Linked DNA regions of Homo sapiens. The protein of the gene in region 2 purifies or fractionates together with the protein of the main gene of each other region. This does not show direct contact. Each region holds a gene or a part of one and is shown on either strand. Other genes may lie near its edges.

Region 1 (2,743 bases), on a different chromosome or scaffold from region 2:
GTTTCAAAATAAGGGAAAAGTTTATCTATTGTGTGTTAAAGAATTATAGGGGATTGTGGCTCATCCCTGCAATCCCAGTACTTTGGGAGTCCGAGGTAGGAGAATCGCTTGAAGGCAGAAGTTGGAGACCAGCTAGGGCAACATAGCAAGACCCTATCTCTACAAAACATGAAAATTAAAAAAAATTAGTTGGATGTGGTGGTGTGTGCCGGTTGTCCCTGCTAATTTGGAGGCTGAGGCATGAGGAGCTCTTGAGCCCAGAAGTTTGAGGCTGCAGTGAGCAAGATCGTGCCACTGTACTCCAGCTTGGGAAACAGAGCAAGACCCTGTCTCTAAAAGAAAAATAAAAGAGTTGCAAAGAATATTAGGGTTTTATGTTTATGAGTTTAGTGTTTGCTCTGTTGGTTTCGTGTTTCTGAAGAGTCTGCTCTACCACTGGAAAACTATGGTCAAGTCAGTGATAAAGTCTAACAATACTTTGCTTTTTGCAAATAGCCACTGTGTCTCAGGAATGGGATTTAACAAGGGGCAGTACCTGTCACTGGATACAGAGGTCGATGAGGAAAATGCTCTGTCCCCAGAAGCATGCTACGAGTGCAAAATCAACGGCTATTCTAAGAAAGACAGCAGGCAGAAGAGAAGTATTCATGAACCTGATCCCACTGCTGTGAGTATATCCCACTCTGTGTTGCCACAAAATTTTATCCCTACGGAGTCATGTATACAGTGCAGTTCACGTCGTTTTCAGCCTCACTGAAGTTAATCATACCTTGAATTTAATGGATAAATTAATGGACCCAGTATGGAAAAGACAAGTAAATTAAAGTGATTGAATTATTAGATCAAAACACAAAGCTTGGGAGAAAAGACTTTAAGATTCACAGTTTCAGAGCATTTTCTCTTGTTGTAGTTTTTGATTTATGTGGGAGGGTATGTCCATCTCGGGAAGAGCTATTTTTACATGATTCAAAAAATGAAATTATTTTTAATTTGTTCAGTTCTGTTTTATAAATGTATAGCATACAAGGCTGATTTTAATTTTCACTAGGGAAACCAAGTAGGTCTCATATTCTTTGTTTTATTTTTAAGACAGTTGTTCCTTCATTAAGAAGTTTTGTCTTCCAAATCACTTGTATTCTTTAAGGAACTGAAGTTGGAAATTGCGAGCCACTGATATTTCCTTTCCCTAATTGCATTTTGGCAGTGTTTAAAGGGGTGGGCTGCAGACTACCTGGTTTTGAACGTAACTCCCTGGCCCTCCCTATCTGTTACCTCTGTTACATAGTTTGTGTTTATTTAACTTCTCTCAACCTCAGTTTTTTCACCTGTAAGATGGGAATAATAATACCTCTGAAGGCTGATGGAAGGGTTAATTGAATTGAAACATGTGAACTGCCTGGAACAATGCCTGACATATATATCACATGTGTTCAGTTCCTATGAATGATTAATATCTCATATCTAGAGATCTTGATGATTTTCCCAAAGATCTGAGACAGTATGAGGTCGTCACTCACCACTCTCTGCAGTTAATATGACTGAGAAATTACCCCACCAAAAAACCTAATCAACAACTGGCTGGCTGTGTGAATTGGACAACTTGCTTCAGTTTTTTGGGCCTCAGAATCTTTGTCTATATGACCTGACTTGTCTAGCCAAAAAGTTCATGATGCTATTTTATAATAATAAATAAGCCAGTGTTACATTTACCTTAAGTAGACTAAGATACCCAACTGATGTTTGACAGTTGAGATATTCATCAAGTTCCCAAACTACAAATCCAGAAGTTCTGCTTATAAACTTTCCCATTGGGGTACTAGGACATAATTCTGCCTGAACACTGATGGGCACTTCTGGGTCACCACTGCCAAGTCCTCACTTAACAGATGCCCAATCAAAGCATTGTGGTTTTTATCCTATCTTACTTTGATATATTTGTGCTCCTCCCAACCCTCTGAGCAAAAGTCAGACTTGGTTTATCTGGGCCCTGCCCCACTGGCTTTTACCAAAGATGCTGGTTTGAACTGGAGCCCTGAGAACTCTGCAGATCACTCACTCTGTGTACCTCTGATAGCTCCCAGTAAACTCACTCATCATTCACTTACCTTACAAATCAAAGCCCAGCTTTCAGACAGAAGATTCCCCTGGGCGCATTCCCTGCTGATGCCCAACAGCAGTACTTCTTATTTTGACTCCAGAAAAAAAAAAATCATTACCTAAATTTTAGTTTTTAAAAATTATTAATTAGCACAATATTTCATAAACTCATCAAAAAAAACTTGAAATGGGAACACTCTGTAAGCCCAGTCCTGTACCTTTAATTACCTTGTTAAGGCTGAGTGAGAAGTCCTAAAGATTTACAGGGTATTCTCGATGGAATTGGCCTTTTCTTCCAACTGACAAAAATGTACAATAGCCTCTTTCACAGCCACTGCTGGTAAGGAGAGTGCAGAAAGCGGGAGTGGGAAGCCACAGCCTGTCCTCGTGACCAAAGCCCCTGCAGCTGATCTCTTTCTAGTCCTCTGCTTGTGCTGTAGAAGCTTGTCCCAAATCATTTCCTGTTCTTCCTCCAGGTTGAACAGATCAGCCTAGAGAGTGTCGACATGGACAGCCCCGTCAACATGAAGTTCAACCTCTCCCACCTCGGCTCTAAGGAGCACATCCTGGAACTAAGGCCCGCCATCCAGCCCCTCAACAACCACATCCGTTATGTCATCTCTCAAGGGAACGATGACAGCGTCTT
Region 2 (4,456 bases):
TAGGAAAATGCATAGAGAAAACTGATTAGTGATTGCTTCAGATCTGAGTGAGAATGAAGTCTAACCATAAGTAGGCAGGAGGAAATCAATATGAGCATGAAATGATCACCGAATTGTGGTGATGGTTACTCCATTCAGCAAACTGTCTAATGATCACTGGATGTACACCTGATATAAGTAAGTTATATGATACAATAGGTTGGAAAAAATAATTGTTAATGTACACGTTATCTAACTTAAGAGTCAATTCTAAGGCCATATTGATAGAATATTTGTAGTTGAACAAAGAATAAATGGAGAAGGTCATTTTACAGCTGAATGCCCACTAATAATGTTATCTATTCCTAAGAAACTTTATTCTTTTCAATTTTTTTTAAGTAACTTTATAGTGGAGAAATCTGAAAGACAGCGTCTCGGCCAAGTGGACAAGGTTGAGATCACCAATGAAGAGACAAACTGACATCACTTGGACCCTGTTATGTTGCAATGAAAAGGACATTTCAGCACTTCTGTGGTATCCCTACCAACAATGCATAATCTGAACCCGCAATTCACCACTTCTGTGGTATCCCTACCAACAATGCATAATGTGAACCCGCACATGAATTACATCAGACACAACTCCAAATGAATGCCTTTCTCCAAAATAACTTGCCTATACTCTTCAAAAATATCAAGCATAGAAAGACAAAGGGTGTAGAATCCTCAAGATTAAAGATTATGGAAATGTGACAATTAAAGGCAATGCATAAAATTAGACTGTGAACACAGGTGGTGGTGGCAGATGGGTAGGGGACACTTGTAAGAACCTTAAGTGAAAAATAGAACAAATTTAAATATAGAACTGCAGAGTACATAACATGAAGTTAGGTAATATGTTATCTAGCACTGTATAATAGATAATACAATAAACTACTATTAGCAGTCTTTGGATAGATATCTAATATTTAATAAATAACATTATCTGGTATACAATCTGAAATTATCTAATATGTTATGTGAAACCATATACTAGGTCTTCCTAAATTCTACTTACCAAGACAGCCCCTGGTACGTGGGCTTCCTTGCTGCAGAAAGCTATAATCAGCTGTCTCTGGTTACAGGTATGTTTCTAGTGGTATTCAGCTGATGGTCATCAACAAAACAAACAGGAAAAATGTAAACACTTGGCAAACGTGGGTAAAGAGTAAATAAGAATTTCTTAGGCTACTTTTGCAACTTTTCTATAGGTTTCAAATGACATGAAAATAAAAAGTTTTATAATTTTAGGAAACAGTCATAGGAAAAATAATAACAATAATGAGATTAATGAGTATGATATAACATGATAATTCACTAGTTTAGTCTGTCAGCATTTGGAAATTTCCATAGTTAAACACATAAGGGGGAAATATTAAGAAAAAAATTATAAAAATTTGTAAATGTTCATAAATAAACCTATAAATATACAAAAAGAAAGAAACACATTACGAGCTTAACAGTTGCTACCTTTACTTCATGGATTCGTAGGTAATAAAAACATTTTGTTCTTTTTTTTTTTTTTTTGAGACGGAGTCTCGCACTGTCGCCCAGACTGGAGTGCAATGGCAGATCTCCGCTCACTGCAACCTCCGCCTCCCAGATTCAAACGATTCTCCTGCCTCACCCTCCCGAGTAGATGGGATTACAGGCGCCCACCACCACGCCCAGCTAATTTTTGTAATTATTTTTTAGTAGAGATGCGGTTTCACCATGTTGGCCAGGCTGGTCTCGAACTCCTGACCTCGTGATCCGCCCGCCTGGACCTCCCAAAGTGCTGGGATTACAGGCGTAAGCCACCGCGCCAGGCCCATTTTGTTCTTAATAAAGAAAAATAGAATGCTGTACAATGACATGGTTCTATAAGAATACAAAATATTTGTAATGATTGAAACAAAATAGTTGACAACATTTTTAGAAACTCAGAAAATTTCAAGCCCCTAAGTCTTGCTTTCCCCACCTAAGTCCAACTAGTTCCTCTGCCTCAGTGACAACGTATCCCAAGAGAAGATCAAATCAGGCTCTGACCCAGACTGCTTAGGTTCCAACCCCAGCTCCACCTCTCACTAGTCGGGTGCCTATGCGCTCTGTGTCTCACTTTCGTTTTTAAAATAGAAAAAAGCAATACTTCTCCACAGAGCCACGGTGTGGCGTAAATTTATTTGTATAAAGCCCTTAGAATGAAGTTACTAATTAAGACTTAATTATTATCGACCCCCATGCCCGAGGACACAACCTATACACTCTCGGTTGGGGTGAGCATCTCGGTCAAAGAGCCAAGGACCACTCACGTAGAGCTTTGCCCTCAGAAGCCAAGAAGTCCCTCCCTGCAGCTCTTCTGGAAAGGTCGGGTTGGGGAACGAGAAAGCTGTGAAACACCTTGACCGCGTCGCCGTCCCCCATAAAAGTTAAATGCTCCTTTCCCTTCATGAAAGTGGACGCAACCCTCGCTCTCCTAAAAAGAGGTCAGAAGGCTTCCGGGATCATCCAGCGTCCTGCAGGGATCAGGGAGAAGGGCCGAGGCCCCTGCAGCTGGAGCTCTGACCCCACCCGGTCCTTCGTGGGAAATTAACAAGAGACCACCAGTCACCAAGTGACAGGGACTGCTTTAAGGCTCTCATTTGTGTTACCTCTTCCAGTTCCCAAAACGATTCCATTAGGATGGCCCTAAAGTCCCCATTTTAAAGAACAGTAACGGGAAACCCAAGGAGATTAACACCCCAACGTTATATCGAGAAGAAGTGGCCACGCGCGTGGGGTGCAGGGGGCGGAGTGGGCGAGCTCAGAGCCCCGGAAACCCTGAAACCAGGTGAGACGCGACCCAACCAAGTACCAATGCCCCCGGGAAGCGAGGACAGACCCAAGCCCAAGAAGGTGCCACGGACGAGAACGCAAACAGCGGCCCTTGCCCCTCCAAACCTCTACTCTCCGACGAGGCCCCTTTTCCCCTAATTCGATCACCAGTTCTTTGAGGATCCAATGCGTAGGTCCAGGAAATTCAGAAGGGCCTGCAACGCGCGGAACTGCCCCAAACTATCGCGGAAAAACTGCAGCAACCTCAGTCCCCGAGCGGAAGTGTCCGCGACTCCACCGAATGTTTGGACTCCACTTCCCAGAATTCCCCGGGACCCGCCAGCCGGAGCCAAACTGACCGCGACTCCACTGAGCGTCTGGACTACACTTCCCAGAATTCCCTGGGACCCAACTGCCGGAGCTAAACCGACCGCGATTCCACTGAGGGTCTGGACTGTACTCCTGCAGCATTACACTCAAAGGGAAGTGTTGACGACTACTGGGAAGCCCTTGACCACTCTTCCCACGGGGAACGAATCTCGTACCCCCGAGCGCCTGTTGGGAAATGTGGACTTCTACCCTGAGAGTCGTCCTTCCCTCTCCCTGGGTGCCTAAGAGAAAATACCGTATAGAAAGGAATTCCTGAAGTCTAAACCCCTCTAGTGAGGACAGGAGTGTTACTGGAAAGGGAACAAGCGAGATGATACACTCTTCAAATAAGTTTTGCCAGTGGTAAGAAATGGCATGTAGTTTTAATTTATAACTCTTGTAAAGATGGCATATTCTTGCATATTTTCAGGTGTCATTATTACATTTTTTGTAAATTGTCCAGATGTTTTGCCCACTTTCTTATTGAGTTTTTGGTTTTATCCCTCACTTTTCAAGCACTGTTCTTATATTCATGATATTAACATTTTATCTCGCAAATATTTTCTCAACAAAAACGTTTTTTTTTATTGTTTTATCTATGCAAAACATTTTAATGTATTTTATTATTTAAAACATCTCTATTGAGGTGTAATGCACAAAACGTGAAATTCACCATTTTAGGATATATGTAGTACAAATAAAAAGTTAGGAAACATTTTCATCACCCCAAAAACCCCATACCCACTAAGCAGTCACTGTCTAACACTAATCTCTGTCCTATTGAATTACCTATTGTGGACATTTCATATAAATGGAATTATACATTATGGAACCTTTTGTTTCTGACACCTTTCACTTAGCATCCTGCTTCTTTTTTTTTTTTTTGAGACGGAATCTCAAAAAAAGTGCCAGGCTGGAGTGCAGTGGCACGATCTTAGCTCACTGCAACCTCCGCCTCCCGGGTTCAAGCGATTCTCCTGTCTCAGCCTCCCGAGTAGCTGGGACTACAGGCGCGTGCCACCACGCCTGGCTAATTTTTCTGTATTTTTAGTAGAGACGGGGTTTCACCGTGTTAGCCAGGATGGTCTCGATCTCTTGACCTCGTGATCCTCCCGCCTCGGCCTCCCAAAGTGCTGGGATTACAGGCGTGAGCCACCGCGCCCTGCCAGCATACTGCTTTTAAAGTTCATCCACATCACAGCATGTACCAGTACTTCATAATATTTTATGTTTCTACTACGATTTGTTTTTTTTGTTTGCTTTGTCTTGTTTTGTT

Evidence for each region.
Region 1: the proteins of ZNF224 (region 2) and FBN2 purify together in Homo sapiens (affinity purification with mass spectrometry; one large-scale study listed by BioGRID and IntAct). This does not show direct contact.

The regions. Positions count from the first base shown.
Region 1 is NC_000005.10:128,259,660-128,262,402, reverse strand, and holds part of FBN2 (fibrillin-2 precursor), read left to right. Parts: intron 1-495; coding exon 496-667; intron 668-2,573; coding exon 2,574-2,743.
Region 2 is NC_000019.10:44,093,012-44,097,467, reverse strand, and holds the start of ZNF224 (zinc finger protein 224), read right to left. Parts: upstream 3,108-4,456; 5' UTR 2,938-3,107; intron 1,126-2,937; 5' UTR 1,037-1,125; intron 1-1,036.